Linked DNA regions of Homo sapiens. The protein of the gene in region 1 purifies or fractionates together with the protein of each later gene. This does not show direct contact. Each region holds a gene or a part of one and is shown in the gene's direction. Other genes may lie near its edges. The genes, in order: RPP38, RPP30, PSMA5, RPL22, VASP, YBX2 and IGF2BP3.

Region 1 (2,201 bases):
TGCATTGCATCTGGATGAGCCACTTTTCTTCCTGATTTCCTGAGCTCTAGGGGAGCATAGAGATAATGGGGTCAGGGGACACAGTGTGGCCACCGTGAAGGAAGCAGCTTAGGCCCCAGAAGTCTCCAGGATTGCTGTACCGAGATGACCAGGGTGTGATCTCTCACCCTAAGGAGCTGAATTTGGCTTTTCTGTGGGAAAGTGTCTGGGAAGAATATCAGAGACCAATAGCGCTCAGGGGGCCCTTTCTCGGGGCTGTCCAGTGTGGAAACACCCTGTCCTACACCAGTGGTTCCTGATTCCGGCTCTGAATCAGATTCACGAGGGCAACTTTTTTTTTTTTTTTGATATGGAGTCTTGCTGTCGCCCAGGCTAGAATGCAGTGGCGCGATCTTGACTCACTACAACCTCCGTCTCCTGGATTCAAGAGATTCTCCTGCCTCAGCCTCCAAGTAGCTGGGATTACAGGCAGGCACCACCATGCCTGGCTAATTTTTTTGTATTTTTTAGTAGAGACGGGATTTCGCCATATTGGCCAGGCTGGTCTCGAACTCCTGACCTTATGATCCGCCCGCCTTGGGCTCCCAATGTGCTTTGGTTACTGGCGTGAGCCACTGCACCCGGCCTGGGGCAGCTTTTTATAAGCACAGATGCCCAGGCCTTATTATTGAAGATTCCAATTCAGTAGATCTGGGTTGAGGACCAAGCATCTGCATGTTTTAAGAAGCCACAGGTTATTTTTGAGGTGTAGCAAGGATTGAAAGAACAGAAAACTTGGATTTGGAAAACTAGTTGTGACTTTAGGCAGTGAGTCAGTTTCCTAATGCACACATTGGGGGATTCTATAGGAATGCTGTAAGAAGCAAATAATACATGGAGAGAGTGCTTTATACAGCGATACACTGCACAGACACACTTGCCTTCAACATCAGCTGCCAGCCTAGTAAGTGGTAGTATAAATGCAAAGGATATAACTTCCTTTAGTTTTGCCAGGTGGGTCCCTGTGATTCTAGCTGAGCCCCAGGAAGGAAGGGAAGAAAACTGAGGGAAGAGAAGGGAGTGTGTAGTTGCCTCTGGGAAGGATAAAAGGATATGCCCTCTGGACCAATAGTTTATAACATTTTCCCCATTAAGCATCCTTCTACTCATTTTTCCTCAATGGATTAGTATCTTTAAATTTCATTACATTTCCCTAGTCTTCATGGAATTGCCAGCCAGAGAAGTCAGCTCGGGGTCCCCCTAAAAAGGAGGACTGGCCGGGAGTGGTGGCTCGTTCCTGTAATCCCAGCACTCTGGGAAGCTGAGGTGGGTGAATCACCTGAGGTCAGGAGTTCGAGACCCGCCTGGCCAACATGGTGAACCCCATCTCTACTAAAAATACAAAAATTAGCCAGGCGTGGTGTTGGGCACCTATAATCCCAGCTACTCCGGAGGCTGTGGCAGGAGAATCGCTTGAATCTGGGAGGCAGAGGTTGCAATAAGCTGAGATCATGCCATTGCACTCCAGCCTAGGCAACAAGAGCAAAACTCCGTCTCAAAAAACAAAAAAAAGGGAGTGTATGCCTGCATATGTATCAAATGCTGTAGGAAGGATATTCAAGAAATTTAGGGCCCTGGGAGGTGGGGAGACTTACAAAAGTGGACGTGACAGTGTTATTTGAAGTTTTAATCATGAGATGACTGTTCAGTTCTTTAAAATATCACACCTGATTGGTTGTGAATGGCAGAGGCCACCAGAGTATTTGCAGATTGGGAGCTCTACGTGGGTGGACATCGGGTCTTGCTTACTGTGAGCCCCAGGACCTAGAACACCACTTGCATACTGGAGGTGCTCAGATCATTTTTTTTTTTTTTTTTTTGCAGACAGGGTCAGATGTGTTACTGGGCTGGAGTGTGGTGGCACAATCACGCTCACTGCATCCTTGACCTCCTGGGCTCAAGTGATCTTCCCACCTCAGCCTCCCAAGTAGCTGGGACTACAGGTACGCCTCACACTTAGCTAATTTATGTATTTTTTGTAGAGGGTTTCTCCATTTGCTCAGAGTGGTCTCGAACTCATGGGCTGAAGTGATCTGTCCACCACAGCCTCCCGAAATTCTGAGACTGAAGGCATGAGCCAGTGTGCCAGGCCTAGAATATTTGTTGAGTGAATGCATGGAAGCCCAACTAGATAGCATTTTGGAAAACAGTAACAAGTTAGA
Region 2 (3,500 bases), about 76 Mb from region 1:
CAGAGTATCCGGAAGATGTCTCATAGAAACTCCCTCTCCATAGCTACTTAAGGAGATAAGGCAGAGATTAAAGATTTTGAGGGGGTCCATTGGTTAGGGCTCCTTGGGATGGGGGACAGCTGTGGAATATGACACAGAGAGAGAGTTGCATAGAAGCTTCTGGAGCTTCTGGACCAATTAATTATTCCCATTTAGGATTTAAAGCAGCTGAGCAGGTTGAGGAGAATTCAGGTTATTTAGTCCAGTGGTCTCTAACCTGCTTTGATTGTGCACCCTATCAGTTTAAAAAATTTTTGAGCCTGCTTCCAAATATATATATGTTTCTTATAAATTATTCGCATCTCTCATTATACCAGTGTGCCTTATAAAAACTACATACACACAAAACAGATCTTAAGATAGTGAATTAAAAATTAAATGGGCCAGGCATGGTGGCTCACGCCTGTAATCCTAGCACTTTGGGAGGCCGAGGCAGGCAGATCACGAGAGGCCATCCTGGCTAACACGGTGAAACCCCGACTCCACTAAAAATTCAAAAAATTAGCCAGGCATGGTGGCGGGCACCTGTAGTCCCAGCTACTCAGGAGGCTGAGGCAGGAGAATGGTGTGAACCCGGGAGACGGAGCTTGCAGTGAGCCAAGATTGCACCACAGCACTGCAACCTGGATGACAGAGCAAGACTCCGTCTCAAAGAAAAAAGTAAATGGAGGCTGGATCCAGTGCCTTGTGCCTGTAATTCCAGGACTTTGGGAGGCCGAGGCAGGATGACCACTTGAGGCCAGGAGTTCAAGACCAGCCTGGGCAACATAGTGAGACCCTGTCTCTATTTTTAAAAAATAAAAGTAAATGGAAATAAAAGTTTTATTTTCTTCCTGCTCCTGAAATTCATGCCTTTCCTTTGCAGAGGACTGTTGTAGTGTCTTGAGGAAGGGAGTGTCCTGGTGTTACTTGCAGTATGGTCTGGCTCCACTGGCTTTAGAATTACCTGGGATATTTATTAAAATGCAGATCATTAGGCCATACTTAATGAATCAATGGAGGTAGGGCCTGGTTGTCTCCATTTTTGATACATTCTTTAGGGGAGTTTTGTACACATTAAAGTTGAGTGCCACTGTTGATGGGCATCTCTCTTTTTCCTTGGTAAGCCTGATTGTCTCTTCACAATTTATCAAACTGATACCTTTGAAAGGGATTCAGGGAGGAATATGAACCCCTACAGTCCTATTCCTTTTGTGCCATAGAGGCAAAGATGTGTATATATGTGTGCATTTTTATGGGAATACGTTTTCTTTAAATTGTCATAGGAGTCTCTGGCCAAAAAAAAAAAAAAAAATTGGTATGGACAACTGATGTGAATTATTATGTAACCTACTAGTTTTCAGAGAAAACCATTATAAGATTCTTAACCCCAAGGCTCTATTGGGCATAATTTAATCTTCTAAAATGATATAGAAAGCGTTTCATTGTAGTGTGAACATTAACTTTTATTTTGTGGTTATCTAAAAGTATTGATTGAACATTTTGGTTAATAGAAAACTAAATAACAAAATAATTCAGTTTGGGGCATTCTAAGGTTGAAGTGTCAGAGGGAGCCATGTGGAGCTGTCCCTTGTAACTAAAAGTTTATTATAATGCATGTATTTGCACGTACTTAAACCAACATAGAGCCATTGTTTAATTGGCCACTCTTATGTAGGAAAAGGGAAGAAAGGAACAATGTGTAAGTAAAAAGTAACCTAATTTAGCTTTATTCTGGGGAGAATGTTTAACAGGCTTTTAAAGAATTAATCACCTTTTTAAACTGAAGAAATAATTTACATTCACAATGATTAATTTAAACAGTACAAAGGTACTGAAAAGTATGCCTTACTTCCACCTAAAATTCCTTCCCCATTTTTTCCAGAAGCAACCACTAGTAATAGTTTTTGTGTATCTTTTTAGAAATATTATTTACCTCGTCTTTTTTTCCTTTGTTCTCCCCTTTCTCCCTTCCTCTTTCCTTCCTACCTAACACCATGCTTCTTTTACCTTACAGTTTCTTAGAGGTTGTTCCATAATATCCATTAGAGATGTACATCATTTCCTTTAATGAGTTGGCATATTCCATCATATAAAGGGATCATAATTGAAGTAAAATTGAGGGATGTTTAATTGTGTCTAGTCTTTCATGATTGGTATTGCAATGACTGTCATTGTACTAATGTCCCCTGAGCCTTTGTAGGGTATATAGCTACGTAATATATTTTTAGAGTCTCTGCACTTATAGAGACTTCTCTATAGGAGACTCCACTTATACCTACTACATACCTATAAGTAGAATTGTTGGTGTGTGCATTTAAAATTTTGGTAGCCATTGCTAAAATGCTTTTCAAGACCTTATACTGATTTAAAGACCTTTTGAGTGCCTGTTCATTCATTCTCATGTCAGCAAGGTAGTACCAAACTTTTTTATCTTTGCCAGTATGATCGATAAAAAATGGTGAACAGAGCTGAATTTGTTTCAGCTATCATTCAGAGCTTTTCTTCATCCACTCTTATTAAATTTTCAGTGACTCTTTTATGAGTTGGACAGCTGTGGCAGTTGGGATGGGGCAGATTCTTTATGAGCCAAGTATTTCTGCCAAAACAACATTGCTTCCCAGGCTTACTAAGTTACTATGACTGTCTTAAAGCTAGCCAGCCTCTGATCTCTACTTCCTAAAGCCCTGGGGTTGGAGTAGGAGTGACTGAAGTGGGGATTCTGAAGAAAAAGGGCAAGATACGGTATTCCTGTCATTGCCGAAGGTTGGCACCAATCCTATAGGTCATTTTCTCCACTCTTCCTTACTCTGCCCTTTCCCCTGGTACATGCCACTGATGTTGTTTGTCAGCGTAGCCATCCTGGAAGTTTGAATTTGTCTGTCAAGCCTGTACACACTAGCATTGTCAGTAAGCTTTGTTTTTAATGTAATACATAACAGCCAAATATTTTTATCACTATAAATCAAATAATGGCAAAATCAGAGCCAGGTATGTTTCTTCCAGCAGTGTCTTCTGGCTTGCCCTCTACACTAGTAACCTTTTCCCAGCTTTATTTTTCTTCCCTGATTTTCCATTTATCCTGATTTTCTTATCTGTTTATTTTATCTTGTATGTGGTTTTCATAAACAGTTTCAAATCTCTTTGAGAAGAAAATGCAGAGTATTACTCAACAAGTCATAGCAAAAATTAAAACAACAGAAAGGGAAATTAAAAGTTGAGAAAATGCATTCATTATCATTTGCTTTGTAGTAGCTCTGCTTTAACTATTTATGTAGATTCCTTCTATTAGTATTTGAACAAATGTCATGAGGTGCTGTGTTCATATTTCTTTAGCTACTCAGTAGACTTGATAGGAGCCACAGCCCTGGGACAATTCTTGGCACAGAGTTGCTCAATAAATAGTGTGTGGGATAAATGGACTATGCATACATTCCATTTGGCTTATTTTTTCCTTGGGTTTTAGAATAGTCAGTTTCTTC
Region 3 (3,500 bases), on another chromosome or scaffold:
GAGATTTGGAAGTAACTTGTGCTTAGCACTCTCCCAGGCTGGAGTGTAGTGGCACCATCTCGGCTCACTGCAACCTCCGCCTCCTGGGTTCAAGTGATTCTCATGCCTTAGCCTCTCAAGTAGCTGGGATTACAGGCACCTGCCACCACGCCCAGCTAATTTATGTGTTTTTAGTAGAGACGGGGTTTCACCTTGTTGGCCAGCCTGGTCTCGAACTCCTGACCTCAGGTGATCCGCCTGCCTCATCCTCCCAACGTGCTGGGATTACAGGCGTGAGCCACCACGCCAGGCCAAAAGCACTACTATATGACATGTTACCTGTTGTAAAGTCTGGACTCCATAAACCACGGATTGCAACCATCTCATTCATTTGTTCACATATTTTTTGTGTCCATTGTGTGCTCAAAGCTTTTATAGCTGAGACCATGATTGGTGCCTCTTCTCCGTAGGGATTTCCAGCACACTTGAGCAAGGAAAGGTGGAAAGTGTTAAGTGTTAAGGGGAAGTGTTTAGAGAGGAAAGCAGTCTGACATGTAAGTTATATAAATATTGAGTGAATGAACTAGGTTAGAATTAGGAACTACATGGATCTCAGTCTGTTAAGATAACAATAGTAATTCATACAAATAAGTAGAGAAATGTACCTGTGACTAACTTTTAGTAAAAAGTAATAATTAGGCCCAGGCACAGTGGTTCATGCCTGTAATCCCAGCATTTTGGGAGGCCGAGGCGGGTGGATCACGAGGTCAGGAGTTCAAGACCAGCCTGGCCAATATGGTGAAACCCCATCTCTACTAAAAATACAAAAATTAGCCGGGCGTGGTGGCATGCACCTGTAGTCTTAGCTGCTGGGGAGGCTGAGGCAGGATAACTGCTTGAACCCAGGAGGCGGAGGTTACAGTGAGCTGAGATCGCACCCGCCTGAGCGACAGAGCGAGACTCTGTCTCAAAAAAAAAAAAAAAAAAGTAATAACTGTGTTTTATAGAGATTGTCTGAATTAGGGGGAAAACTCTTCCTACTTGCTCCACGAGTCAATACCTGTTAGGAGACTATTACAAACGTTAGGTGAAAGGTAATGAGGGCATTGAGAATGGAAAGAAGAGTGATAACCCCAAGTATTAACGTCATATGCATGTTATGGGAAGAGGATAAGGAAAAATGCACATTTTCTTGGAAATTGGCTGATAGTTTTGAGGCATGAACTTACCAAAGGAACTGGTAAGTCTATTCAGAATGGATCCAAGTTGATTCAGGATTGAGGCAGAAAAGTCATTTGCTCTCATTTCATCAATTTGGGAAGACTTTCTGGGAGTGAGGCAGAAGTGTTCTATATATAGGTTCCATTGCCTTGAGAAACTGTTAATGTACAAAAAAATGCTACAGATTGTTGTGGGCGAAGTAGAGAATAATGACAATGTGCGTATTCTGTAGCTATCTGAGCTAGTTGTCAAGGAACTTGAATTCAGTGTCTACATGGCTAGTTTTTATGAGTATAATTAATAATTTTTTTTTAAATTATAGGGGCGTGAATACTTTTTCTCCCGAAGGAAGATTATTTCAAGTGGAATATGCCATTGAGGCTATCAAGGTATAGTAGCAAGTAGCATAGGTCCTGAAATTTCATGGCTACCTAACATTTTGCTGGCAGAACACTTGGAGTAAATGTGGTTTAACCATTCCTTTAGAAAATGTTCTTATATCCCTTTAAGCAACCACTGTTAACCATTTTTATAACAGTTTCAATCCTATTCCTAATATCTATTTTAAAACTTTTTGAGCAGTTAACTGCTTCATAATTATCTAAATAGCTTTTTCTCAGTGGGGGTGGAGGGACATATTTGTGCTTTTGATCCTCTTAGCTATAAAGAGAGGTACAGAAGTCCAGAATTAGCACCTGTATTACTTTTTCTGTTTTGTTTTCTTTAGCAAATCATGTATCTGACCACCTTTGTATTCTTTCTTTTTCTTTCTTTTTTTTTTTTTTTGAGATGGAGTCTCTCTCAGTTGCCCAGGCTGGAGTTCAGTGGCGTGATCTCAGCTTACTGCAACCTCCGCCCCTCGGGTTCAAGTGATTTTCCTGCCTCAGCCTCCCAGTACCACCAGGCTGGTCTCGAACCCCTGACCTCAAATGATTCGCCCATCTCAGCCTCCCAAAGTGCTGGGATTACAGGCGTGAGCCACCACGCACAGCCCACCTTTGTGTTCTTGTTGGTAAAGTCACCTTAGGGACTAAATAAGAGATTTGTTTTAGTGGTTTTTTAGAGACAGGGTCTCACTCTGTCACCCATGCTGGAGTACAGTGACACCATCTTAGCTCACTGCAGCTTCTAACTCCTGGGCTCAAGCTTTCCTCCCACCTTAACCTCCCTAGCAGCTAGGGTACAGATGTGTGCACCATGCCTGGCTAATTTTTTTTTTTTTTTTTTTTTGGTAGAGATGTGGTCTTGCTATGTTGCCCAAGTTGGTCTCAAACTCCTGGGCTCAAGTGATCCTCCTGCCTCAGCCTCTCAAAGTGTTGGGATTTACAGGTGTGAGCCACCACACCTGGCGTGGACTGGATAATTCTTTGTTGTGGAGGGCCATCTTGTACATTTTAGCATGTTTATCAATTCCTGGGTACTACCCATTAGGTGCCAGTAGCACTCTTTCAGTTGTGACCATCAAAAATGTCTCCAGACTTTGCCAAATGTCTGGTGGGGACAAAAGGGCCCCCAATTGAGAATCACTCTTCTAGATAAAAAGTATATATGAATTCTGTCCTACTCTGTTCAGTTAGGGATTCAAGATCAGTATACTATACATAAAACAATTAGAGAACAACTAAGTGCTAAATTAAGTTTTCTGGCAATGGTTTCTGATTATATATTTGTTTGATTTTTAAGGTATACATGCATGTAGTTTCAGAGTTAGAAGGCAAAGTAGTTCTATAAACCTTGTAACAAAAATAGCAATTCTTGAGGCCTGCATCATCTAGGTTCAGCTTTTCAGAGGCAACACTTTAAATTGTTTCAGCTGGTAATGTTCTAGGACTGTACCTCCATATCTCTATAACACAGATGTATGGTTTTTTTTTATTAGGCATTATCCATGGACTTTTCATTATGAAAGATGAAGATTTCTGCCCTAACCCCACACCCCTACTCCCCACCACACACAATTGTCTTCTGAGGTGGGGATAGGGTGACCCTCTCCATATATATCATGAATATCATAATTTTGTAAGATCATTAGTCAATAGTTACATTAGTATAACTAAATGCTTTTCACAGCTGAGCCATTTTGCATTTTATAATTATTTTTCTGTTTCTGCACAACATTGTTTTTCTTGGAGTTAATAATTCTCTTTTTAAAAATATTTGCTTAATTTAGGATGATCAATAATGCATTCCAAAGTCTCTCCAGGTTACATGTATCCTCTCAAAACATTCAGGCAAATTAAGTGTCCTATTAAGGATTCCTTTTTTTTTTTTTTTTTGAGACAGAGTCTTGCTCTGTCACC
Region 4 (3,500 bases), on another chromosome or scaffold:
TGAACTTGTCACTTCATTGGTCAATTTAATGATTTCTACAGGAGCAGTTTTTGCAAGAAAGGATCAAAGTGAACGGAAAAGCTGGGAACCTTGGTGGAGGGGTGGTGACCATCGAAAGGAGCAAGAGCAAGATCACCGTGACATCCGAGGTGCCTTTCTCCAAAAGGTACAGGAGGGAAGTGTGTGTGTGGCCTGCGTGCACCCAGTGCCCAGCCCGCCTTTTCCCTGCATGGGAGTGGGGGCACCCGCAGAGTGATTGGTTTGCATCTGTTAATTTCTGGAACTATGCTCAGTGCAGGAGGCAGTGGATGAATGCTATTATGGTTGTTAACAATAGTCAACTTTTGGTGGTTTTAAAATTTTGTCTTTCACAGGCTAAAGTGTTTTATTTTTTTTTGAGCTGGAGTCTCACTCCATCGCCCAGGCTGTTGTGCAATGGCGCGATCTCGGCTCACTGCAGCCTCCGCCTCCTGGGTTCAAGCAGTTGTCCTGCCTCAGCCTCCTGAGTAGCTGAGACTACAGGCACCTGCCACCATGCCCGGATAATTTTTGTATTTTTAGTAGAAACGGGGGTTTCACCATGTTGGCCAGGCTGCTCTCAAATTCCTCCCCTCAAGTGATCCACCCGCCTTGGCTTCCCAAAGTGCTGGGATTATAGGCCTGAGCCACCATGCCCGGCCAGGCTAAAGTATTTTAAACAGTAAGGTACTCAGACTTGCTTTCAAGACTGTTTTCTCAAAAATATTCTTGGCTGGGCACAGTGGCTTATGCTTGTAATCCCAGCACTTTGGGAGGGTGATACAGGAGTATTGCTTGAGCCCAGGAGTTTGAGACCAGCCTGGGCAACATAGTGAGACCCCCATCTCTACAAGAGTTAAAATTAGCTGGGCATGGTGACATGTGCCTGTAGTCCAGCCACTTGGGGAGCTGAAGTGGGAGGATGGCTTGAGCCCAGCAGGTTAGGGTTGTAATGAGCTGTGATTGTGCCACTGCAGGCCAGCCTGGGTGACACAGTGAGACCCTATCTCAATTAAAAAAAAAAAAATTGCCTCCTGTCTCTAGATCACAGTAAGAGCTTACTTTTTTTTTTTTTTTTTGAAACCGAGTCTTGCTCTGTTGCCCAGGCTGGAGTGCAGTGGCGCCATCTTGGCTCACTGCAACCTCTGCCTCCCAGGTTCAAGCGATTCTCCTGCCTCAGCTTCCCGAGTTTTTGGAATTGCAGGCATGTGCCACCACGCCTGGCTAATTTTTCGTATTTTTAGTAGAGACAGAGTTTTGCCATGTTGGCCAGGCTGGTCTCGAACTCTTAACTTCAGGTGATTCGTCTGCCTCAGCCTCCCAAAGTACAAGGATTATAGGCATGAGCCACTGCGCCTGGCCCACACCCAGCTAATTCTTGTATTTCTTTTTTTTTTTTTTTGGAGACAGAGTCTCGCTTTGTTGCCCAGGCTGGAGTGCAGTGGCGAGATCTCGGCTCACTGCAAGCTCTGCCTCCCGGGTTCACGCCATTCTCCTGCCTCAGCCTCCCGAGTAGCTGGGACTACAGGCGCCTGCCACTGCGCCTGGCTAATTTTTTTTTTTTTTGTATTTTTAGTAGAGACGGGGTTTCACCGTGTTAGCCAGGATGGTCTCGATCTCCTGACCTCGTGATCCGCCCGCCTCGGCCTCCCAGAGTGCTGGGATTACAGGCGTGAGCCACTGCGCCCGGCCTCTTTTTTTTTTTTTTTTTTTTTTTTGAGACGGAGTCTCACTCTGTCACCCAGGCTGGAGTGCAGTGGCGTGATCTTGGCTCACTGCAACCTCCGGCTTCTGGGTTCAAGCGATTCTCCTACCTCAGCCTCCTGAGTAGCTGGGATTACAGGTGTCTGCCACCACTCGTGGCTAATTTTTTTTGTTTTTTAGTAGAGACAGGGTTTCACCATGTTGGCCAGGCTGGTCTCGATCTCCTGACCTCGTAATCCACCCACTTTGGCCTCCCAAAGTGCTGGGATTACAGGCGTGAGCCACCGCGCCCGGCCTAATTATTGTATTTTTAGTAGATACGGGGTTTCGCCGTGTTGGCCAGACTGGTCTTGAACTCCTGACCTCAGGTGATCCACCTGCCTTGGCCTCCCAAAAGTGCTGGGATTACAGGCATGAACCACTGTGTCTGACCAAGAGCTTTCCTTTTGAATTCCAGTTGTTTCCCTTGTAAGTGCTACTTTGGCACTGAACAAGGAATCTGAAGACCTCAGTTTAGACAGAGTCCACTCTAGTTAATTCCTGGGGGCCCATTTTCTTTCATTTCAAAATGGAGACATTAATTTGCTAGTTCCCTCCTCTGTTATGTGTTGGTTTTTGAGGATGAGGTTAAAATACTTTACCAGTTGCTGAAGAATTGGATATGCATATACTCAGCTCCTAGCCTGGGGCTGTGGCCTGTTAGGAGCTTTTAATCATACTAAATCCCAGCACTTTGGGAGGCCGAGGTCAGAGGATCACCTGAGGTCAGGAGTTCTAGACCAGCTGACCAACATGGAGAAACTCCGTTTCTACTAAAAATACAAAATTAGCTGGGTGTGGTGGTGCATGCCTGTAATCCCAGCTACTGGGTAGGCTGAGGCAGGAGAATTGCTTGAACCAGGGAGGCGGAGGTTGCGGTGAGCCAAGATAGCACCATTGCACTCCAGCCTGGGCAACAAGAGCGAAACTCTGTCTCAAAAAAAACAAACAAAAGAAAACCAACATACTAAATCAAGTGGTGGGAAATTTTAAGGTATGTTAGTACAAATTGGTTGTAGTTAATGCTTTTATGTTTAGCTATGTCCGTGAAGAAGAGACTTTGAAGCTTAAGTGAAGTCCTCACAGTCTGCCTGGGAAGCAGTGAGAATGGGGCTTCTGGTGGGGGTACAAAGCGTCCGGCCTGCTGGGCTGTAGCAGAGCCCTTGGGGAAGATTCTGCTACCTTTCTGTGACCTGTTTACCAGGGTGAGGGTATCTCCTGACATGCGTCACTTGCGTTTTCACAAACTTTCTGTTCTTTATCCAGTGGAGTAGGGAAGGTGCCTTAATCATCTATTACAGCTTTCCTTTCTTGATGATAATAGTTAATTTTCCTGAAAGGTTCAAGGTGTCCCGAATCTAGAACTTTTTCTGTCTCTGAATTTGTACAGGGTTTTTATTTATTTATATTTTTGAAAACGAGTTTTGATCTTCTTGTCTAGGCTGGAGTGCAATGGCGCGATTTCAGCTCACTGAAACCTCCGCCTCCCAGGTTCAAGCAATTCTCCTGCCTCAGCCTCCTGAGTAGCTGGGATTACAGGCGCCTGCCACCACGCCCGGTTAATTTTTTGTATTTTTAGTAGAGAGGGGGTTTCATCATGTTGGCCAGGCTGGTCTGGAACTCCTGACCTCAGGTGATCCACCCGCCTCGGCCTCCCAAAGTGCTGGGATTACAGGCATGAGGCACCCTGCCTGGCCTGTACAGGGTTTTTTTTTTTTTTTTAACCTGATTTTTTTCCC
Region 5 (3,500 bases), on another chromosome or scaffold:
TTTTGGCAGCGGAGACAGACAAATATTGTGTTGGGCAGGGGTCACTGCTATGAAATGTGCAGCAGGGGATGAAAAGGAGAGAAGCGTTTCCAGCTAAGGGAGTGAGGGACGGCTTCTTGGAAGGGGTGACATCTAAGGAGAGACCTGAAAGTGGGGAGAGGCTAGGCCTGAGGAAGAAGCAGCACACAGGCCCGAGGCAGGAATGTGTCTGGCCTGCGGGAAGAGCAGCATGGGGGTAGGAGGTCTAGGGTCTGGAACAGAGTCCCCAAGGGACAGTGGAGCGGGAAGAAATGAGATCTGAGGACACACAGATCACGGAGGCCCTGGAGAGAACTTGGCATTGATTCCGTAGGAGCCTGGAGCCTTCAAGAAGAAGAAGAGACATCCCACCTTGTAGGTTTTTGTTAGTTTGTTTTGTTTTTTAGAGATGGGGGGTCTCACTGTGTTGCCCAGGCTGGTCTTGAACTTCTGGACTAAAGCAATCCTCCCGCCTCGGCCTCTCAAAGTGCTGGGATTACAGGCATGAGCCACCGTTCCCCGCCCCACCTCGTGTTTTAACAGGATCCTTCTGTTACAATGGGTATAGTGTTCCCTGGAGAGGGGCAAGACCACCCCTTGGTCACCCAGCAGGCGCCCTGTTCTCCGGCCAGTCCAGAGCCTCAGTAGGGCAGGGCTGCCTGGGAGAGCAAAGTGCAGCCAGGGCGGGGCAGCAGCAGCCCCGGGCTCCTGGCCAGAGTCGGCCCTGGGTGTGGGTGGCAGGTGTGGGTGAGGCCGAGGCCTTAACCCTGCCTTGCCAGGGGCAGCAGGAGCCAGAAACAGCCCCCGAGGCTGTGTTTGTCTGGAAAGGGCACCTGGTGTTTGGGTGGGGCCCACACAGTTCCCGGTGGTTAAGGCTTGGAAGCCTGAATTCACATCTTCACTCTATTCCTCAGTAGCTGTGTGACTGTGGGCAAGTCACTCAACCTCTCTGGGCCTCTAGTCCTCACCTGCAAAATTAGAATGAGTGGCTCTCTGGATAAGCTGCAGTGAGAATAAAATGAGTGACTTTGGGGGAGGGGCTTAAGGCCCCTGATCCACCTGAAATGCCTAGTAAGAGGGAGATGGCACAATTAGGTAAATTTGAGGGTCCCTACCCCAGGTCCCTACCCACAGCTGAGTCTGCCTAGGGACTTTCCCTGCCCTGACTTCCCAGCATCAGTGTCACACCCAGCCCCCAGCCCTCCTAGAGACAGAGGCTTTGCGGGGGGTGTCTAATTTCTGTCCCCGGAAACCTCTGACCACCAACTTCCCCATTTCAGGAAAAAGCCTGGTGTGGGTGGGGTGGGGAGGAGACCAGTGCTTCCCCTTCCCCTGTGTGACCTTGGGCAAGTCACTTCCTGTTTGAGTTCCTGTCTAGGCCTGAGTTTCCTCACTGGGGGAGAGGGGATTGAACCTCCCAGAGGGGCTGGTGGGAGGGTCCCGAGGGTTGTAGCTGTCCCGGGCCCCAGTGGTGCCCATGAGAGGGATGTTGACAGTTACTGAGCTCTCGGCGTGTGCTGGACGCTGTACCAAGCACTTAGCTTTTTTTCTTTTTTTTGAAACAGAGTTTCACTCTGTCGCCCAGGCTGGAGTGCAATGGCGTGATCTCAGCTCACTGCGGCCTCCACCTCCTGGGTTCAAGCGATTCTCCTGCGTCAGCCTCCTGAGTAGCTCAGACTACAGGTGCACACCACCACGCCCAGCTAATCTTTGTACGTTTTTGTAGAGACGGGATTTCACCATGTTGCCCAGGCTGGTCTCGAACACCTGAGCTCAAGCGATCCATTCACCTCAGCTTCCCAACATGCTGTAATTACAGGCGTGAGCCACCACACCCGGCTGTACCAAGCCCTTTAGGTGCCCAGATTCATGTGCCCCTCCCCCACTGCCCTGGAGGTGGGGACTGTCATTTTCCCAGTTCACAGGCAAGAAGAGGTCTTGAGTGGGAAGGTCATGTGCCTGAGTCACATGAAGTAGGTGGCTCAGTGGGGATTTGAACCCAGGTCTGGGGATATCAGCTCCTGAACTCTGCACCAGTTTACTGACACCTCCCACCCAGGCTAAGTCAGACGTTGCCTTTTCCAGGAAGTCCTGCCTGACTCTCCAGGCTGGGGCAGGCGTTCCTTCAGGGTACCCCCAGACCCTGGGCTCCTTGGTCCTAAACCTGGGTTGGTACCGTCTGGGGACAGCTGTGTCTCCCACACTGGACTGTGAGCCCCAGGAGGGTGGTGCCGGAGCTGTCTGGGTCACTGCTGTGTCTTCATCCCCAGCCCCACCCAATATAGGCCAGACACAGAGCAGGGAGTATCTGGGGAATGGCCGCTAGTGCCCTGGGGAGCCAGGCGAGGGGTGGGCAGCGGGAAGTCCCTTTGGAGGAAGAGCTCAGAGGTCTGGGATGGGTCCCCAACCTGCTGCAGGCCTCACACTTCCCCTCCCAAGCCTCAGCTTCTTCCTGAGCAGGCAGTGGTGGAGGGGGGTGCGTAGAGATAGGGAAACTGAGGTCAGGCAGGGGCTGGTCCCTAGTGCAGCTCTGGGCTCTTGGCCTCCTTCTGGCCCCTCTGTCTTCCCTCCTGCCCTCTGCTCTGCTAACCCGCATCCCCCCACTGGCATTGGCCTCGGCCTCTTACACCCCTCAGCCTGTCTCTCCATCTTTATCTTTTCCTTCTTATTAGTTTTGTTGTGTTGTGTTTTTTATTTTTCATTAAAAAAGTTTTTTTGTGGACTGGGTGTGGTGGCTCACCCCTGTAATCCCAGCACTTTGTGGGGCTGAGGCAAATGGATCACTTGAGCCCAGGAGTTCGAGACCAGTCTGGCCAACATGGTGAAACCTCGTCTCTACTAAAAATACAAAAAATTAGCTGGGCTTGGTGGTGCATGCCTGTGATTCCAGCTACTCAGGAGGCTGAGGCGGAGAATGGCTTGAACCTGGGAGGCAGAGGTTGCGGTGAGCCGAGGACAGCCCGGGTGACAGAGTAAGACTCTGTCTCAAAAAAAAAAAAAAAAAAAAAAAGATTAGTCGGGTGTGGTGGTGCATGCTTGTAGTCCCAGCTACTTGGGAGGCTGAAGTGGGAGGATCGCTTGAGCTCAGGAGGTCGAGGCCACATTCCAACCTGGGTGACAGAGAGCAAGACTCTGTCTCAAAAACAAAAATAAAAATAATAATAATAATTATTATTATTAGAGATGGGGTCTCACTATGTTGCCCAGGCTGCTCTGAAATGCTTGGGCTCAAGTGATCCTCCTGCCTCAACCTCCAAAGTGCTGGGATTACAGGTGTGAGACACCACGCCAAGACCATCTTTATCTCTTTCTGTGTCTGCCTCTTCCTCCAGGTCCCCTGTCTGCCCATCCTTTTTCCCCACCCCTCCCCCATCTGTTCATCTGTCTGTCTGCCTTCAGTCTGTCTCTCCTCTTTGTCAACCCGACTCTCCCTTTCCCACCTCTCTCTGCGTCTGTCTCTTGCATCTCGTTTGTGTGTTTGC
Region 6 (3,965 bases), on another chromosome or scaffold:
TGGACACATTGATCAAAACTCAGCGAAGGCCGGGCACGGTGGCTTACCCTGTCATCCCAACACTTTGGGAGGCTGAGGCGGGCGGATCACCAGAGGTCAGGAGTTCGAGACCAGCCTGGCCAATATGGTGAAACCCCATCTCTACTAAAAATACAGAAATTAGCCAGGTTGTGGTGGCGCAAGCCTGTAATTCCAGGTACTCAGGAGGCTGAGGAGGGAGAATCGCTTGAACCCGGGAGGCAGAGGCTGCAGTGAGCCCAGATCGCGCACTGCGCTCCAGCCCGGGCGACAGAGGGAGACCTTGTGTCAAAACAAACAAACAAACAAACTCAGCGAAGAAGAATTGCGCATTGTACTACTTGTAAACCTTGTTTCCAATACAAACATAGGTAGGGGCAGGCCGGGAGCCACCTTGAGGTGGCTCAAGGCAGGAGAATCGCTTGAACCAGGGAGGCGGAGGTTGTAGCGAGCCGAGATCGCGCCACTGCACTCTAGTCTGGGCGACAGGGCGAGACCCTGTCTCAAAAAAAAAAAAAAAAAGAAAAGAAAAGAAAAAGAAAGAAAAAAGAAAAGTAGGGGGTCCTGGCTCATGGGAGCAAGTGTGAGCCGGGAAAACCATTCTGCTGCGCTTTCCAGCCTATCCTGCGGTTGGATCCCGCAGCCCCAGGGTGTGCAGGGCCGTCCTGTGGGGAGAGGGTGCCAAGGGCGGTGGTGGCCGGAAGGCGTCTGCACCTGGCAGCATACGGGCAAGGTCGGTCTCGAGGGTGGAGGCGAGCGGTGCTACTCACTGCCAGAACCGAGGCTGCAGATTCCCGCCCCTCGCTCAGGTCGTTAGGGGCAACCTTGGCACTGCGGCCCCGGCCCCGCCCTTCCCGCAGAGGCCAGGTGGCGGTTGGGGCGCGACCGGCCCGTTTGATTTCCCGCGGCCGGTGGAAAGGGGCGGAGGGGGGAGGGGAAAGGGGCCGCCGGCCAATGGGTTGGGCCGGGGGCCGTCACGTGGCGGCCAGGGGGCGGGGCCCAGGTGTACTTACTGGGCGGCTGGCGGGGGCCGGGGCCGCGGTGCGAAGTCCGGGAGGCGGGGTCGGCGTGCGGTCCGGGGGTGCTGCTGGGCTGGGATTGGCCCGTGGTCGGGAGGCGGGGTCTGCGCGAGCGGCGGCAGCGGGCTGCCATTGGCCTCGGCTCCGGGCCCGCTGCCGGCGTGTGGGCGAGGCTCGGGGCGCGAGGACCGAGCAGGGCGGTGGGTTCGCGAGCCGGGGGGAGGGGCCGGGGCGGTGGCGGCTGTGGCCGGTACTGGACCCGGCGGGATGAGCGAGGTGGAGGCGGCAGCGGGGGCTACAGCGGTCCCCGCGGCGACGGTGCCCGCGACGGCGGCAGGGGTGGTAGCGGTGGTGGTACCGGTGCCCGCAGGGGAGCCGCAGAAAGGCGGCGGGGCGGGCGGCGGGGGCGGAGCCGCCTCGGGCCCCGCTGCTGGGACCCCCTCGGCGCCGGGCTCCCGCACCCCTGGCAATCCGGCGACGGCGGTCTCGGGAACCCCCGCCCCCCCGGCCCGGAGTCAGGCGGACAAGCCGGTGCTGGGTGAGGGGCAGGCGCGCACAGGGCGGCTCTGAGGGGTCGGCGGGCTGGGGGAGGGGCAGTGTGGAGCCCGGCAGGATCCGGAAAACCAAAGGCGGCCTGGCCCGCAGGCCCAGAGCGCTAACTGGGCTGGGAGCTGCGCACCAAAGTGGATTCCCCTGGTGGGAAATCCTGCCGTACCTTCCTGGGAGAGAGGGCGGGGCCGGCAGGTTCAGCTAAGGTCTTGGGGTGGAGAATAAAGCCCCAGGGTCCGGCCACGCCCCCGGGCGGGACACAGTGCCTAGTTGACTGGGTTAGAACTAGGCAAACCTCTGAGCCTGGCAAGCAGGTGCACTGGGGACCCTTGCATTGGGAGGGCTAGAAAAACCCTCAGTTATGACCTGGGGGCGGCACTTTGCAGACCAGGTGAGTACCCAGTTCTAGGTGAAGGGGCTGGATTTGTAGGATGTGGGGAACGTGACTTAGAGTTGGAAGGCTTTTTGAAAGCCTGAGTCCCTGTGTGGGTGATTTCATTTGGTGGACTAGGGTAGGAATACCTTGAAGCTACTAGTGAAACCTGGTTGGCTTGAAGGTAACCTGAATAGGTAATAAGGCAGTAGGCTAGATTTTTTTTTGTTTTGGAGTGTCTCAAAACTGAGTTCAACTCCATCTCTTCCCCCCATCTCACTGTCCCCACTGCATCTCTGCCTGGCAGCAATCCAAGTCCTGGGCACTGTCAAATGGTTCAACGTCCGGAATGGTTACGGATTCATCAACAGGTATCCAAGGAACCCAGGGCGGGGGTGGAATGGGTGTCTTCCCAGCTGGCCTGTGGGACTGGACACCCGCCCAACCTCATCGACCCCTGCGGAGGCACATGGTTGCAATGTCCAGCTGATGCTGGTTGAAAGCCTTTAACCGCAGCACAAATGTGTGCTTCGTGACAAGAGGAAGCCTCCTCCGCATCTTCAAGGGTAGCGGAGGATTAATGATTCAGGAACTTGGCAAACCTGGCTCTGACCCTGCCAGCTTCTCATCTCACCTTCTGGAATTGCTTCATTACTTTTACTCTGACATGCCTTTGGGGCAGAATGTATTATAGGGTTCTCTGTGCCTCAGGGCCCCCGGCTGGAATCCTCAACTGATTTCCTGTTATGGCAGCACTCACAACTCAACTCCCTTAAAGAGCTGTGGCTCATTCGAGCCCTCCACCTGTTGGGACTGAGGCTGACAGTGGGGGTCAGGAGGAAGGAGCCAGAGGCTGCTGCTTTCCTTCAGTAGGCAGCCCCACCCCTCAGCACCGGGAGAGGCTGTGGCAGTGGATTCTGAGCAGAGCCAGGTCTCCCCCAGTGGGCCCTTCCCCAGCCCAGGCATCCTGCCCGGCCTGGCTCTCCTGGGAGGCCCTAGTTCCCTCTTAGCAGGCTGACCTTTGTGCAGATCCAAGTGCTTTAAAGCTAAAACGTTTGTTCTGGGGAAGGGTCCCTGTCTAATTCTGGAAATGGCAGACTGGGTCGGGGGCAGAGTGCCTCCAGGAAAACTTTTCCTTTCTCCCCTCCCCCCACCCACTGGGGTTCTTATGATAGAGAATGGGTGAATGTTTTCTTCTCTCTCACCCTTGGTCCCACGCGTGTTGAGAGTGGTCCTGACTCTGGGATTCACCTCCAGGCTGAGGATGAGAATAAAGTTTGGCAGCTGTTTAGAGCAAGTTCCTGACACATTGTTCCCTTCTCAAACTTGTTCTGCCCCTCTGGCCCCATCTGCACTTTCTGCCTCCTTGACTATAGAAGGAAGAAGACTGGAATTTTCCAACCCTGATGGGGGTTGGGGGAGGGGGTGTTGGCCAGGGACAGTTGCACCCAGCGCTGGCAGGTTGTAAGGCTAGCCTGGGGTGGAAGGTGGAGTCCCGGCAGGGGCAGAGCTGTCTGAGGTTCCTCAAGGTGCCTTTGCCTCCCCAGCCTGCCCTTTCCTTGTGAAGTCCAGGTTTGGCACTGAGGTTTTAGGTGTATCTCTCTTTACACCAGCTTCTGGGGGCCCTGCTGGCTCTCCCTCCCATTCCCCAGGCCATGTCCACCCCTAACTGGAATGCTGGAGAGGATGGGCCCACTGAGCTTAGACTGGGCATCTAGGGGGACCTCAGTGAGGAGCTGAGGGCTTTGTTGAAGTCCCTTCCTTAACGACCCATCCTGTTCTGCAGGAATGACACCAAGGAAGATGTCTTTGTTCACCAGGTAAGAGCTAGGTTAGCTTTCTGAGGGGAAGAACCGGCCGTCTTTGAAGGCCTTTGCTGTAATCCTTAGCAGTGCGCTCCGCCATGTTTCTCTGGCTCTTCTTCACAACGGCCCATCCGCCTTGGGTGCCTGTGTCAACCACCATTAGCCGCACTTGTGCTGGGTTACTAAACGTCCGTCAGAATT
Region 7 (3,500 bases), on another chromosome or scaffold:
TAAATTTACCCCCAGAAAGGGGAGAGTTTTAAAAGAAAAAAATCTCAAAAGTTATTCTAGAAGCAGCTATTTTTAAAACTGTAATACAAAATGCTTGGCAGGGCCAGGTTGAGACTGAATTAGAATTATAGACTTCTTTTTAAAGTAGTCTAAGAGAAATAGTCTTCATTATACAAATGTTTACATTTTTAACAAGTTTGAGGAAAATGTTAAGGAATAACTTCCCATTCATCTGGCTCAAGGTTAGCCTGTGACATTATACTAGTAGTGAAAATGAGAACTTCAGGAAGATGAAGGAGATTTGTACCAATAATCCATATCCTCTCAATTTATGTACTTAGTTCTGTTTTCCATGGCACATGTCTCCCATTGCTTTTCCTCTCAAGGCTGTTGACCAGCATAGGCTTAGGTGTTTTCAGGTATGATATTCAGTGGCTTTTGAAGGTTCAGCAGGACCTAGGTCCCGCAGGGAGTTTCTGAATATTTCTGCCACTATCTAACGTTTTTGTTATCTAAATGGCATCGGTGAACCATTTTAAATTTTAGTCAAGATGGATTGATATTCCTCCAGCCTACTTCAATCTAAATTCTAAAGAAACTGGTAAAAACTAAGTTTAGACACAGGAATTCTGGCTTGTGTTTTTGGAATATTTCCATGCTTTCTCCTTGCTTGGTGACCCAGAAAATGCAATTGCACGAGAATGCCAATTATGCCTAGAATTGGTTAATACAGACTAGGAACATACTTATGAAAGGTTATGTACTTAGGGTATTTGGTTTCCTCAAAAACTATACATCTTTCCAGTCATTTTTTAATTCACTGTTCAATTGTGAAAATGGTTCAACTTTAAGCGGTTGAGAAGTAAGCTTTATTTAAAATATGGACTTGATTGAACTATATGTATCCAGTAATCGTTAGTTGAGAAAATGGGAGGGCAAATATTTTCTTCTCTCTTGCAGCTTTACAGTTTCGGATTTACGTCTTTTGGGGCTTACTCATTTCCCATCATGTTTTACCACCCACTTTTACATATTACCAGGCTCCACAGTTTGTTTTTAATTGCCGTCTGTGGCTGAATTATTAGCTGTCTTCCTCCAATTTTCATTCTTTTTCTTTCCCTTCTTTTTCATTCTGCAGATTGCAGGAATTGACGCTGTATAATCCAGAACGCACTATTACAGTTAAAGGCAATGTTGAGACATGTGCCAAAGCTGAGGAGGAGATCATGAAGAAAATCAGGGAGTCTTATGAAAATGATATTGCTTCTATGAATGTTAGTTTTGTTATGAAGGGCATGTCTTTATTTTAACAAATAGTTAAAACAATGTTTTTAACTGCATTAATATTGAATTCTTTTGTGGCATTATCACTAGAAGTAGTTCTAGTTGATTTTTAGCACCTCAGCAAGTACCCTGGGATAGTAGGGAAGATACTGGCTTTGACATTAAGCTTTGCTGTCTCTGTGACTTTAGCAAATTATTCAGTCTTTGAGCCTTAGCTTCCTTCTGTCTGAAGTAAGGCTAGTGTCTACCTACAAAGGTTAATATAGTACCTCTCTTACAATGTTAATTTGAGAGAGTTTAATATAGAAGAAATGTTACATGAACTGGATTTGAATCACAGCTGAACCATTTATGAGCTGCAGCTCTCTTCTCTTATATGATTTACTCAGTCTCTCTGAGGCTCAGTTTACTCATCTGTAAAATGGGACTACTGCCTACCTTGCATTCTTATTAGGATTACAATAGATATAATGCATATAAAAGTTAATGTTAAGATTACAGGTTTAAAACTTGGTTAGCCATATAAACCTTGGAGATACAAGAATTTCAATTGATAAAACAATCTGTGTAGTGCATCTGAGGCTATTAAAGCAAATTGCTGACATTCCTTAATCAGTGAAATGGTGCTGAAAATGGAATACTTCAAAAGCCTGTCTTAAATTTTAAAGTAAATGACTTTAAAAAATAATTTTTTTTCAATTGGGCCAGTCATCTGAAACACAAAACCTGAGACGAGGGAAATGTGCAAATACTGCGTTTGTGAGAAGAGCCTAGAATGCTAGCCATTTTACACCCCACGTGACTTCTTGCCAACCTGCTTCAATTCTCACTGCTTGGCTCCAAATGTTCTGGAATCAACTGGGATTAAATCTAACCCCCTTAGGCCTTTTAAAAAGATTTTCAAGTACACTCAAATCTCCCTTCCACCGTCTACATTACGTCCTCAACCCTTATAAAATTAAACAAATTAAAATACCCTTTCTGGCTCCTATTTCCATTCCAGTGATATGTTTACTTGCAGTAGTTACATGGGGATGGGTCCTGATTTCCAGAGGGCTCAACTTTGAGGCCTCTAGACCCATGGTTGCTAAGTTTTACCCAGCAAGTAAAGATCTCTTAATAGCTGGTTTGCTTTTCAATGAACCAATCTTACTTGATTACCTCTTCAACTCTGATACATTGCTTTTTGTCTATATTTAGTTTGCCCACAGCATGCAGAATACGGTTTTGTCTAAGTCCTGTGGGCTAGTCATAAGGGAAAGGAAAGCTTCCCTTGAGATATCTTAATGCAGCTGTGGACCAAGGAGGGGGCAAACCAGCACACAGATTTTAAAATACCAAGGGATATAAACAGATGTAAACGATGTACTCAAGTAGAGTCCCATGGAACATCTGCTTTGAGTTATACAATCATTTCTTTATTAGACAAGAGATCAGTTTGAATACTGTCACTTAAAAATGCTCACTTTCCCTTGATTCTTTTAATTGTCAAATTAAGGGGCCTTTTTACTGTTGCAGCTTCAAGCACATTTAATTCCTGGATTAAATCTGAACGCCTTGGGTCTGTTCCCACCCACTTCAGGGATGCCACCTCCCACCTCAGGGCCCCCTTCAGCCATGACTCCTCCCTACCCGCAGTTTGAGGTAAGATAACTGGCCTTGGCTTTCTTTGTGATTGGGCAAAATCTTAATGTAAACCTAGTCCCCGCGTGATCATCTGTTTAGATGCCAACATATGCTCTCCAGTTCTTGCTAATGGAGCCTTCTTATTTGGCCCTTTGTGGAGTAGACATGGGATTATTTTGCAGTTTTTGGATAGCGGGGTTGTCAACATGTGTTTTCAAATATCACAACAAAAGTTTGGGACTTTGAGGTGGCAGGGGAAGAAACTTAGTAATTGTTTTTCTTATTTAAAAAAATTTTTTTTCTTTTTTCTTTTTTCTTTTTTTTTTATTCTAAGTTCTCGGATACATGTGCAGAATGTGCAGGTTTGTTACATAGGTATACATGTGCCATGGTGGTTATTTAAAAGTTTTTGGAGACACAGTCCCACTCTTTCGCCCAGGCTGGAATGCAGTGGCACAATCTTGACTCACTGCAACCTTCACCTCCCGGGTTCAAATGATTCTCATGCCTCAGCCTCCTGAGTAACTGGGATTACAGGTGTGTGCCACACCACACCCGGCTACTTTTTTTGTATTTTTAGTAGAGACAGG

Evidence for each region.
Region 2: the proteins of RPP38 (region 1) and RPP30 purify together in Homo sapiens (affinity purification with mass spectrometry; 3 studies listed by BioGRID and IntAct, with this or other methods). This does not show direct contact.
Region 3: the proteins of RPP38 (region 1) and PSMA5 fractionate together in Homo sapiens (co-fractionation; one large-scale study listed by BioGRID). This does not show direct contact.
Region 4: the proteins of RPP38 (region 1) and RPL22 purify together in Homo sapiens (co-immunoprecipitation; one large-scale study listed by IntAct). This does not show direct contact.
Region 5: the proteins of RPP38 (region 1) and VASP fractionate together in Homo sapiens (co-fractionation; one large-scale study listed by BioGRID). This does not show direct contact.
Region 6: the proteins of RPP38 (region 1) and YBX2 purify together in Homo sapiens (co-immunoprecipitation; one large-scale study listed by IntAct). This does not show direct contact.
Region 7: the proteins of RPP38 (region 1) and IGF2BP3 purify together in Homo sapiens (co-immunoprecipitation; one large-scale study listed by IntAct). This does not show direct contact.

What each region holds. Positions count from the first base shown.
Region 1 is NC_000010.11:15,100,355-15,102,555, forward strand, and holds part of RPP38 (ribonuclease P protein subunit p38), read left to right. Parts: intron 1-1,863; 5' UTR 1,864-1,982; intron 1,983-2,201. UniProt on the Homo sapiens protein: Component of ribonuclease P, a ribonucleoprotein complex that generates mature tRNA molecules by cleaving their 5'-ends. Also a component of the MRP ribonuclease complex, which cleaves pre-rRNA sequences.
Region 2 is NC_000010.11:90,881,974-90,885,473, forward strand, and holds part of RPP30 (ribonuclease P protein subunit p30), read left to right. Parts: intron 1-3,500. UniProt on the Homo sapiens protein: Component of ribonuclease P, a ribonucleoprotein complex that generates mature tRNA molecules by cleaving their 5'-ends. Also a component of the MRP ribonuclease complex, which cleaves pre-rRNA sequences.
Region 3 is NC_000001.11:109,419,949-109,423,448, reverse strand, and holds part of PSMA5 (proteasome subunit alpha type-5), read left to right. Parts: intron 1-1,522; coding exon 1,523-1,589; intron 1,590-3,500. UniProt on the Homo sapiens protein: Component of the 20S core proteasome complex involved in the proteolytic degradation of most intracellular proteins. This complex plays numerous essential roles within the cell by associating with different regulatory particles.
Region 4 is NC_000001.11:6,189,596-6,193,095, reverse strand, and holds part of RPL22 (large ribosomal subunit protein eL22), read left to right. Parts: intron 1-41; coding exon 42-166; intron 167-3,500.
Region 5 is NC_000019.10:45,513,979-45,517,478, forward strand, and holds part of VASP (vasodilator-stimulated phosphoprotein), read left to right. Parts: intron 1-3,500. UniProt on the Homo sapiens protein: Ena/VASP proteins are actin-associated proteins involved in a range of processes dependent on cytoskeleton remodeling and cell polarity such as axon guidance, lamellipodial and filopodial dynamics, platelet activation and cell migration.
Region 6 is NC_000017.11:7,291,840-7,295,804, reverse strand, and holds the start of YBX2 (Y-box-binding protein 2), read left to right. Parts: upstream 1-1,165; 5' UTR 1,166-1,304; coding exon 1,305-1,575; intron 1,576-2,266; coding exon 2,267-2,330; intron 2,331-3,745; coding exon 3,746-3,779; intron 3,780-3,965. UniProt on the Homo sapiens protein: Major constituent of messenger ribonucleoprotein particles (mRNPs). Involved in the regulation of the stability and/or translation of germ cell mRNAs. Binds to Y-box consensus promoter element.
Region 7 is NC_000007.14:23,341,492-23,344,991, reverse strand, and holds part of IGF2BP3 (insulin-like growth factor 2 mRNA-binding protein 3), read left to right. Parts: intron 1-1,138; coding exon 1,139-1,274; intron 1,275-2,802; coding exon 2,803-2,928; intron 2,929-3,500. UniProt on the Homo sapiens protein: RNA-binding factor that may recruit target transcripts to cytoplasmic protein-RNA complexes (mRNPs). This transcript 'caging' into mRNPs allows mRNA transport and transient storage.